Homo sapiens: one gene and its partners. The protein of the gene in region 1 interacts with the protein of each later gene in a biochemical or structural test. Each region holds a gene or a part of one and is shown on either strand. Other genes may lie near its edges. The genes, in order: TRPC1, RHOA and HOMER3.

Evidence for each region.
Region 2: the proteins of TRPC1 (region 1) and RHOA form a complex in vitro, tested with the Homo sapiens proteins (one study listed by BioGRID).
Region 3: the proteins of TRPC1 (region 1) and HOMER3 form a complex in vitro, tested with the Homo sapiens proteins (one study listed by BioGRID).

Annotation. Positions count from the first base shown.
Region 1 is NC_000003.12:142,726,934-142,730,586, forward strand, and holds part of TRPC1 (short transient receptor potential channel 1), read left to right. Parts: intron 1-3,653. UniProt on the Homo sapiens protein: Forms a receptor-activated non-selective calcium permeant cation channel. Forms a heteromeric ion channel with TRPC4 or TRPC5 that has reduced calcium permeability compared to the homomeric TRPC4 or TRPC5 channel.
Region 2 is NC_000003.12:49,405,343-49,408,995, reverse strand, and holds part of RHOA (transforming protein RhoA isoform 1 precursor), read left to right. Parts: intron 1-2,189; exon of another isoform or gene 2,190-2,284; intron 2,285-3,653. UniProt on the Homo sapiens protein: Small GTPase which cycles between an active GTP-bound and an inactive GDP-bound state.
Region 3 is NC_000019.10:18,934,617-18,938,269, reverse strand, and holds part of HOMER3 (homer protein homolog 3), read left to right. Parts: intron 1-3,653. UniProt on the Homo sapiens protein: Postsynaptic density scaffolding protein. Binds and cross-links cytoplasmic regions of GRM1, GRM5, ITPR1, DNM3, RYR1, RYR2, SHANK1 and SHANK3.

The DNA of each region.
Region 1 (3,653 bases):
AGATGAGGAAAATGAGGCTTAGCAAAATTTTAAAATTACTTTGCCCAAGGTTACATTGGTTAGATAATAGTAGAACTGGCATTTATCTTGAGCCTGCACTCCTAACCACTACGTTATATAGATCTGGTTGTAGGTGAATGAGTGAACATCATTTGTGTCAGAAAAGACACATCCATATTTGGACTTACTAGTTGAAATTACATTTTCTTTGTATGGATGCTTTATAAACCTTGATTTCTGTGTATTACATTTGTTCAATGAAGGGTAAAAAGCAAGCATGGTACTTCAGTAGCACCAGAGTAAATCAACTCTAGAGTATCTATGGTGTTCTAGAGTGTCTCATTCTTTTCATGTAGCATTCTTGTTGTACATATGCAAAATGTTCATAACATATTCTTCTTAGGAAAAATTGAGGAATTCCTAAAGCAAAAATTGTGGAGATGAGATGGATATGTGTATGTTAGTGGATGGGTGGCCCTTTGAAAGATGTGTACAGATTAAAGAGTACAATAAATGTAGGAAAGAGAAAAGAAAAAGATTTATAGTTTGTGATAGCTGGCTTTTATGTAAGTAAGTTCGGTAGATTTAGGCAACTGCTGATCTAGGTAGTGGCCACTTAGTAATGGCTGTTAGTGATCTTCATAGTGGGTGAGGATCATCTCAGAGGTAACATTGAATCCTTTCTTTGTAAAGGAAAACCTTAATTGAAAGTTACTGTGCCAGCAATATATAAAGTGAAGTCTAGGACCCCCAGATAAAATTCTCAGAAAGTATACTCATGTTCTTTCTAGAGATAGAAAGCTATATAAATTCAGAGGTAAAACTTAATTGAAACAAGAGCTGACTATAAATATGTTGTTTTATGAAAAATTAAGTAGTGATTCTTACAGCCATGGCTTTGTCCTCTCTCATTGAGAATTAGTGTCATAATGAGCCTCTTTTATTTGTAGGCACCTATGGTGTCCCTCAGGTCTGTTAACAGGAGAAAGGGTAAATAAGTTTATTTAGAAAACACCTAAACTAAGTGTAGTTCATGTTAATTTTCCTCTAAAAAAAAAAAACTTGTTGAGTAGATGGTAGCTTTTAGTATATATTTGTAAATATAAACCTGCATAAACTGTTTGATTTGCTGATGATCATTAATCAGTTCATGTGGAGGAAAGAAAGTATGAAATGATTCAGTCCCTGCCAACTCTCCATGGAGAGTATTTTCAGGAAATCTGATGTGCGGTAAATGAGTTAGAAGCCCCTTCTTGAAATTTCAGCATGGGGTTAGGGGGAGGGATGGAGAGAGCAGGTTTTCACCTTTATCAGTGGGCTCAGCCTAGTCTCAGTGTCCTGTGTCACCTTTGTGGTAAGATTTGCTGTGTTGTAAGGAAAAATGTTTTGATGACTGTATTTCTTTTTTTTTTTTTTTGAGATGGAGTTTCTCTTGTTGCACAGGCTGGAGTGCAGTGCAACCTCCGCCTCCCGGGTTCCAGCGATTCTCCGGCCTCAGCCTCAGCCTCCTGAGTGGCTGGGATTACAGGTGCCCACCACCACGCCCGGCTAATTTTTTTGTATTTTTAGTAGAGACAGGGTTTCACCATGTTGGCCAGGCTGGTCTCAAACTCCCGACCTCGAGTGATCCACCCGCCTCGGCTTCCCAAAGTGCTGGGATTATAGGCGTGGGCCACCGTGCCTGGCCTGATGACTGACTTTCTCCATAAGCTTTGTGTACCTTTGGGCTAAGGATGCTTTAAAAATGTGCAACAACTCCAGAGAGAAGCCAGAGTCAGAAGAAAAAAGTGCAGCATTTCTGAGAGAAGTAATATTAAGCTGCTGTTTTTTAAACACCTTATTTATATATAATGGGCCTTTAAAATTTTTTTACTTATTTGAGAAGAGATTTTGAAGTCTGGTATTAGAGAGGATGGTGGTGGGAAGAAACAAAAAATGCAGAGTACTGAGTATTGGTGTGAAGTGTTATGTTGACAATGGGGCACCTAATGTAAGGAGGTATGTGCTGTGAGGAAAAAACTTTGCAGAAATGAGAGGTAAAGAGGGTATTGTAGGCAGCATTCTATAAACACTTCACAAATCATCATAGACATAGCATTTATGTACTTTATATAGGAAAGCTTTTCAAATAACCAAAGTTTTACAATGTAATAGTTGAAAAACATTGCCATGGCGAACGGTTCAGGGATACTTTAACAACAGCAACGAAAGACTCAAATTGCGAAAATCTTAGTGGATAATTTATCTCTAACAGACTAGTAATTCAGCAGCTAGCTGCCTGGTAGTTCTATGATACTGGTAATTCTTTATAGTGATCACGCAACTTTGCTGCTCTTTTTCTGTAAGTCACAATCAAACTATACTTATCAAGCTGTTAATTGTGTTAAGGCACTGTGAAAGTGCTTTATCAAGAAAGTACTGAGTACATCCCTATCCTTTAGGAGAATATTCTTTAATGGAGATGCTCTCTTGTGCTCTAGCGAGGAGAAGTAAGGAAACAAAAGTATGTTTGTATTAAATATATCTGTCTGAAGGGAAGAAGCAAGTGCTCAATTTAACTTAAATGGCCTATATGTGATTTGGAGAATGGGATATTACGTGTACAGGGTCAGTCTTTTATCTGGGCAGTTAAAAAAAATGTAACCCAAGCCAGACTCCTAGCTATACCTTGTATATAGACTTGGAGGAAGAGTGTGAAAAGATTAAATTTTATTATATAGGTATTATCGTAACCTAATAATTCCTCTTCTACCTTGCTGCCAGTGCTCTAAATATCTTCTTCATTGCTAACTCTTCCAAATTTAATGATACTGAGAAATTTAAGATTTAAGATCAATAGTTGAATAGGTAATGAGGATTTCAAAAGTTATCACTAAGATGTGATTAACTAATGACTTTTAGGAGCCTAGATGAATGATAAGGACTAAAAGAATTCCAGCACTGTATCAATATAGTCATGAGACTCAGTAGATTTCTTTGGATGCCAAAGCTTTGTTATGTATAAAGTGGGGGTGACTGGCACTGTTATTAATAGCTTCTGTTAATTTTTAAACATATGTTTTTCTAGATTAACATATTGGCCAGTAATATATTTTTCTAGTTTTATAAATATGTATAATTCAAATGTATATGAGATTAAATTTAAGCAACACAATAAATCCTTTCTGAGACTGTGTTGCAACAACCTGATATAAACTAAGTTTTAAACAACTTACAGCAGCATTGTGAATGGGATCTCATGTCATTTATCAGACTCTAACTACAAAATAAACATTGCTTTTGACTATTTTTCTAATAGAGTTAAGAATATGCTGTTTATAATTTTTATCAACTGATTTACTATGAAAAAATCAGCATTACCTTCTGTGCTATAGTGTAATTTTTTCAGGCAGCAGTGTGAATCTTTGCTCTTTTGCCAAATGATATTCATTATTATTAATGGTCCTCATTAAGATTCATAAGCAACTAAGAAATTATGGTAATAATTGTCTTTTTACAAAAATGTTCAAAGTGTTATAAACAGTTTAGCCTACCATGTTTTTTAGTATCTTTAATTTTGAAGGTTTCATTTACAATAATATGGTTATAAATACATTGGGGTCTGTAATACGAGTTTTGCACATTTGATAAAGCTACATTTTAAATCATTTTCA
Region 2 (3,653 bases), about 93 Mb from region 1:
GGTGAAACCCCGTCTCTACTAAAAATACAAAAAAAATTAGCTGGGTGTGGTGGCGGGCGCCTGTAGTCCCAGCTGCTCTGGAGGCTGAGGCAGGGGAATGGCGTGAACCCGAGAGGCGGAGCTTGCCGTGAGCTGAGATCGCGCCACTGTGCTCCAGCCAGGGCAACAGAGCGAGACTCCGTCTCAAAAAAAAAAAAAAAGGATCTTAAGTATTTTGTCTGACTCTGCCATTTAGTTTATTCCTTTGTTTACCTGCCCAATGGAACTGTTTGCTTGTAACTACACATTAATATAACTAAATTTTGAACTTAATGTTACATGCCTTGCTATACATGGGGCTCTTTGGGGACATGCTCATTTGTGGGATTAAAATTTCCAAGACGGTTTGAAGTTTGTAATTACTATAAAATCCCTCATCTTTAATCTGTGGAGCTGTAGTATTAAGTGAAGGCCTTGGTATGTTCATAATTACGATAGTCATGTGACTGAAAATCAGGCACTGAAGCTGCTCGTTCTGGGTGTTGGTCTCAGTTTATTGATGCTTCATCCAAATACATTTTTATAGCTAATAATAAAGAAAAACATCAAATACTCTTGCTAAATTGCAATCAGTATGCAGTTTATGCCAAACTTAGCTTGATTTTATTTTTTGAAGAGGATGAGTATGTATATTTAAGCATATGTGTGTGTGTGTATATGTATATATACTTGTGTATACGTATATACGTGTATACGTATATATATGTGTACATATACGTGTATACGTATATATATGTGTACATATACGTGTGTGTATGTGTGTGTGTATATATATATATTTTTTTTTTTTTCTCTTTTGAGACTGAGTCTCACTCTGTCGTCCGGGCCAGAGTGCAGTAGCGCCATCTCGGCTCACTGCAACCGCCGCCTCCTAGTTCAAGTGATTCTTGTGCCTCGGCCTCTGGAGTAGTTGGGAGTACCAGCATGCGCCACTGTGCTCAGCTAATTTTTGTATTTTTAGTAGAGACGGGGTTTCACCATGTTGGTCAGGCTGTTCTCGAACTCCTGGCCTTGTGATCTGCCCCCCTTGGCCTCTGAAAGTGTTGAGATTGCAGGTGAGAGCCACTATGTCTGGCCATATTTAAGCATATTTATGATAGTATCTTAAATTTAAGTGAAGGGAAAGAGGAAAACATACACAGCCAATGAAGTAAGTTTGAAGTGGAGTGAAAGGAAAAGTTGGAGGTAAAAAGAGGTTAGAGAGGTGGGCAGGGGCCAAATCATATAGGGCCTTTAGGACATGGGAAATTCTTTGGATTTGTTCTGAGATTAGAAGTCATTTAGATATTCTTTAGAAAGGGAATGACATGATCTGATATTAAAAAAAAAACTAGAATCACTGTGAGTAGGAGTAGATCTAATTCCATTCTGACTAAATAGTAAACTAATATGATAATTTGGACAAATATAAAAAGGAATTCCTGGCTGGGAGCAGTGGCTGATGCCTGTAATCCCAGCACTTTGGAAGTGCTGGGCAGGTGGATCACTTGAGGTCAGGAGTTTGAGACCAGCCTGGCCACATGGTGAAACCCTGTCTCTACTAAAAATACAAAACATTAGCTGGGCGTGGCAGCAGGCGCCTATAATCCCGGCTATTCAGGAGGCTGAGATAGGAGAATCACTTTAACCTGGGAGGCGGAGGTTGCTGTGAGCAGAGATCGAGCCATTGCACTCCAGCCTGGGAGACGGTGCAAGACTCAAAAAAAAAAAAAAAAAAAAAAAAACGGAAAGGATTTCATAATATTAATTTCCTTGACTTAGTGACTTCTGCCTATTTTATTTGAAGTCATTGGTTCTTCTCTTCTCTTCTCTTGAGACAGGGTCTCACTGTCACCCAGGCTGGAGTGCAGTGAGTGATCTTTGTTCACTTCAACCTTTGTTTCCCAGGTTCAAGCGATTCTCGTGCCTCAGTCTCTAGAGTAGCTGGGACTACAGGTGTGTGTGTGTGACCATGCCCGACTAATTTTTGTATTTTTAGTAAAGACGGGATCTCACCATGTTGGCCAGGATGGCCTTGATCTCTTGACCTCGTGACCCCGTGACCCACCCACCTTGGCCTCCCAAGGTGTTGGGATTACAAGCATGAGCCACTAAGGATTTGTTTTTAAAATTTTTTTGCTTTATTTTTTTCTTCTCTTTTTTTGTACTAGAGATGGTGTCTTGCTATGTTGCCCAGACAGATCTTGTACTCCTGGGCTCAAGTTGTCCTCCTGCCTCAGCCTCCCAAAGTGCTGGGATTAAAGATGTGAGTCAAGCGATTCTCGTGCCTCAACCTACCCACTAGCTCGATTACAGGTGCCATCCACCACCTGCCCACCACCCTTGGCTAATTTTTGTATTTTGTATTTTAGTAGAGACAAGAATTTTACCATGTCGGCCAGGCTGGTCTCAAATTCCTGACCTCAGGCAATCCACCCGCCTCAGCTTCCTGCTGGGATTACGGGCGTGAGCTACCCTGGCCAAGATTTTTAATTTCTGAAGCTTATAGCTGCTCTAAAGCACAAGGATTCAGTCCCATGATTTAAAAAAGTTGCTTGTTTTGACTTCAAGTATATGGTTGAGCATTCTAACTTTTGTTATGTATACATTTTTATTTTACTGTATTCTTCTAGCCATTGTATCCTAGTCTGTATGTTGCAGATGAGTTGTGATTCTCTGGTGTCTCTTCCATGGACCTAGAGATCATATGCTCTACTACTGGGATTTTTTTTTGTAACTTTGTTTGGGATATAGGCTTTGAGAGGTTAAGGAAGTAAATTTAAGATGGATATTTAATGTTGTAACACTTTGTTAATGCTTTTTTCTACAAGATAATTTTATTATGTGATATGGCAGCTTTGTTGGAAATACCTGTTTTTTTGTGTGTGTGGAAAATTTCTTTTCTGGATGAAATCTCTTGTTTAACTTTTCCAGTTATTCATAATGAAGCTCTGTTTATCTTTTGAAGATCTTAAGTTCAGAAACAGAAGGCAGGCTGCGTATGGTGGCTCATGCCAGTTATCCCAGCACTTTGGGAGGCCGAGGTGGGTGGGTCACCTGAGGTCAGGAGTTCGAAACCAGTCTGACCAACATGGTGAAACCCCATCTCTACTAAAAATACAAAAATCAGCCGAGTGTATTAGTGAGTGCCTGTAATCCCAGCTACTCGGAAGGCTGAAGCAGGAGAATCCCTCGAACTTGAGAGGCGCAGGTTGCAGTGAGCCAAGATTGCTGCACTCCAGCCCGGGCAACAGAGCGAAACTCCGTCTCAAACATACACACAAAAAAAAGAAGGAAAGAAAAGGCAGTAGAGTATCTTATTTAAGAGCATGGATTCTGGAGAGAAACTGACAGTTAAATACTAGCTCTGACACTTGATGGCTTGAGACCCTTGGCAGTAGTATGTCTCCTTTGTAATTCAGTTTTTTTCTTCTGTAGAAAGGGAATGGTAAGGAAGCGCCATGAGATTTCAGTGAGAGAGAAGCACTTACCTCAAGTGCCAGACATGTAGCCCTTCAACTAACTTATTTTATTTATTTATTTTTTGAGATGGAGTTTTGCTCTTGTTGCCCAGGCTGGAGTGCAATGGCGTGATCCCAGCTCACTGCAACCTCCACCTCCTGGATTCAAGTGAT
Region 3 (3,653 bases), on another chromosome or scaffold:
AGGTCCCCTATCTTCCCATCTGCAGGATGGGATTGTAGGATGAGTTGAGACTGAAGCCCCTTTAAGCTTCCCCGGTTTGATTCCTAGTTCATTTTTCTGTTTTTTTTTTGAGATAGGCTGCAGTGATCTTGGCTCACGCAACCTCCGCCTCCCGGGTTCAAGCGATTCTCCTGCCTCAGCCTCCTGAGTAGCTGGGACTACAGGAGTCCGCCACCACGCCCAGCTAATTTTTTGTATTTTATTAGAGACAGGGTTTCACCATGTTGGCCAGGCTGGTCTCGAACTCCTGACCTGAAATGATCTGCCTGCCTCGGCCTCCCAAAGTGCTGCAATTACAGGCATGAGCCACTGTACCTGCTCTTGAGTCCTAGTTCTACTGCCTGTAGCTCTAATTTTGGACACACCCTGCTCCTCTTTGGGACATCAAATGGGTGGCTGGGCTGGGCTGGGCACTTTCCCACATGCCCCAGCAATACCTTCATCCTCACCTCCCTGCACCCTGTGCCGTCTCTATACTTCCATTATTATCTTTATCCGTGGTTTTGTTGATGATGAGTGCTTTCACGAAGATCTTCTTCTTTTTTTTTTTTTTTTTTTGGAGATAATGCCTTGCTCTGTCCCCCAGGCTGGAGTGCAGTGGCACGATCTCGGCTCACTGCAACCTCCACCTCCCGGGTTCAAGCGATTCTCCTGCCTCAGCCTCTGGAGTAGCTGGGATTACAGGTGCCCACCACCTCGCCCAGCTAATTTTTGTATTTTTAGTGGAGATGGGATTTTGTTGGCCAGGGTGGTCTTGAACTCCTGACCTCAGATGATCCACCTGCCTCGGCCTCCCAAAGTGCTGGGATTACAGGCATGAGCTACCACACCAGGCTTTCTTTGTTTTCTTCTAGAAGGTTTAGAATTTACCTTTCTTCTTTTTTTTTCCCTCCCTCCCTCCCTTCTTTTTTTTTTTTTTTTTAACAAGATCTTGCTCTGCTGTCCAGGCTGGAGTGAAGCAGTGCAATCATGGCTCACTGCAGCCTCAAACTCCTGGGCACAAGGGATCCTCCCACCTCAGCCTCCTGACTAGCTGAGACTATAGGCGTATGCCACCATGCCTAGCTAATATCTTTAATCTTATTTTTTTTAGAGATAGGATCTCACTATGTTGTCCAGGCTGTTCTTGACTCCTGGCCTCAAGCGAGCCTCTCACTTTGGCCTCCTAAAGTGCTGGGATTACAGGCTTGAGCCACTGCACCCAGACAATTTACTTTTTTTTTTTTTTTTGAGACGGAGTCTCGCTCTGTCGCACAGGCTGGAGTGCAGTGGCGCGATCTTGGCTCACTGCAAGCTCTGCCTCCCAGGTTCACACCATTCTTCTGATTCTTCTGCCTCAGCCTCCCTAGTAGCTGGGACTACAGGCGCCTGCCACCACGCCCTGCTAATTTTTTTTGTATTTTTAATAGAGACGGGGGTTTCACCGTGTTAGCCAGGATGGTCTCGATCTCCTGACCTCGTGATCCACCCACCTTGGCCTCCCAAAGTGCTGGGATTACAGGTGTGAGCCACCGCGCCCGGCCCCAACAATTTACCTTTCTAATTTAGGTCTTTTTTTTTTTTTTGGAGACAGAGTCTAGCTCTGTTGCCAGGCTGGAGTGCAGTGGCCCGATCTCGGCTCACTGCAACCTCTTCTCTCCAGGTTCAAGCAATTCTCCTGCCTCAGCTTCCCAAGTAGTTGGGATTACAGACACACCACACCTGGCTAATTTTTGTATTTTTACAAAATTTTTGTTTTTTTAATTTTTGTATTCTTAGCAGAGACAGGGTTTCACTATGTTGGCCAGGCTGGTCTCAAACTCCTGACTTCAGGTAATCCGCCTGCCTCAGGCTCCCAAAGTGATGGGATTACAGGTGTGAGCCACTGCACCCAGCCTAAAAAATCATTTATTTATTTATTTATTTATTTATTTTTTTGAGACAGAGTTTCACTCTTGTCCCCCAGGCTGGAGTGCAATGGTGCGATCTCGGCTCACCGCAACTTCCGCCTCCCCGGTTCAAGCAATTCTCCTTCCTCAGCCTCCCAAGTAGCTGGGATTACAGTCATGTGCCACCATGCCTGGCTGATTTTGTATTTTTAGTAGACATGGGGTTTCACCATGTTGGTCAGCCTGCTCTTGAACTCCTGACCTCATGATCCACCTGCCTCGGCCTCCCAAAGTGCTGGGATTACAAGCGTGAGCCACCACACATGGCCTTATCTATTTATTTTGAGACAGAGTTTTGCTCTGTCACCCAGGCTGGAGTGCAATGGCACAATCTCAGCTCACTGCAACCTCCACCTCCTGGGCTCAAGCAATTCTCCTGCCTCAGCCTCCCAAGTACTAGGATTACAGGCGCCCACCACCATGCCTGGCTAATTTTTGTGTTTTTAGTAGAGATGGGGTTTCACCATGTTGGCCAGGCTGGTTTCGAACTCCTGACCTCAAATGATCCGCCCGCCTTGGTCTCCCAAAGTGCTGGGATTACAGGTGTGAGCCACCGCACCCGGCCTAAAAAATTATTTTTAAACTAAGGAAATTTATTTTAAAACCGGGGTGGTGGGGGGAAACATATCCTATCCTAACTGGAAAACTGGTATTGCTTTGTCATAAATAGGTGGTAAATGTAAACATGTAAACATTTAATACAACAAAAACAAGAATGAGATGATTACTTTCTCATTGACTTCTGATGTCTCTCAGAGCCTGAGACCTAATCTCTTTGTTATAAAGGAATAATAACAGGTGTTAAAGACAGATTAGCACCCACCTGAGGCTCTCTTTGTTGAAATAGCCCTGATAAAGATTAAAAGGGACCCCACATGTTGGCTCATACCTGTCATTCTCACACTTTGGGAGGCCGAGGTGGGTGGATCACGGGGTCAGGAGTTCGAGACCAGCATGGCCAATATGGTGAAACCCCATCTGTACTAAATACAAAAATTAGCTGGGCGTGGTGGCACGGGCCTGTAGTCCTAGCTACTCGGGAGGTTGAGGCAGAAGACTCGCTTGAACCTGGGAGGCAGAGGTTGCAGTGAGCTGAGATGGTGCCACTGCACTCCAGCCAGGGTGACAAAGCGAGATTCTGTCCCCCCCCAAAAAAAAAAAAAAAAAAGGCTGGGTGCTGTGCCTGTAATCCCACCACTTTGGGAGGCTGAGGCAGGCGGATCACTTCAAGCCGGGAATTTAAGATCAGCCTGGCCAACATGGTAAAACCACATCTCTACTAAAAATATGAAAATTAGCCAGGCATGCTGGTGCATGCCTGTAATCCCAGCTACTCATGAGGCTGAAGCAGAGGCTGCCGTGAGCCAAGATCATGTCACTGCACTCCAGCCTGGGCAACAGAGCAAGACTCCATCTCAAAAAAAAAAAAAACAAAAAACAGGAAAAGGGCCATTCTGGGGAACATGGCTAGACCCCGTCTCTAGAAAAAATTAGCCGGGCATGATGGCACACACCTGTAGTCCCAGCTCCTTGGTGGAGGGGTAAGGTGGAAGGGTCACTTGAGCCAGGGAGGTCAAGGCTGCAGTGAGCCGAGATCATGCCACTGTACTGCAGCCTGGGTGACAAAGTGAGACCCTTTCCTAAAAAGAGGACATGGGAATTCCTTTCCCTTTCTCAATGTGGCCC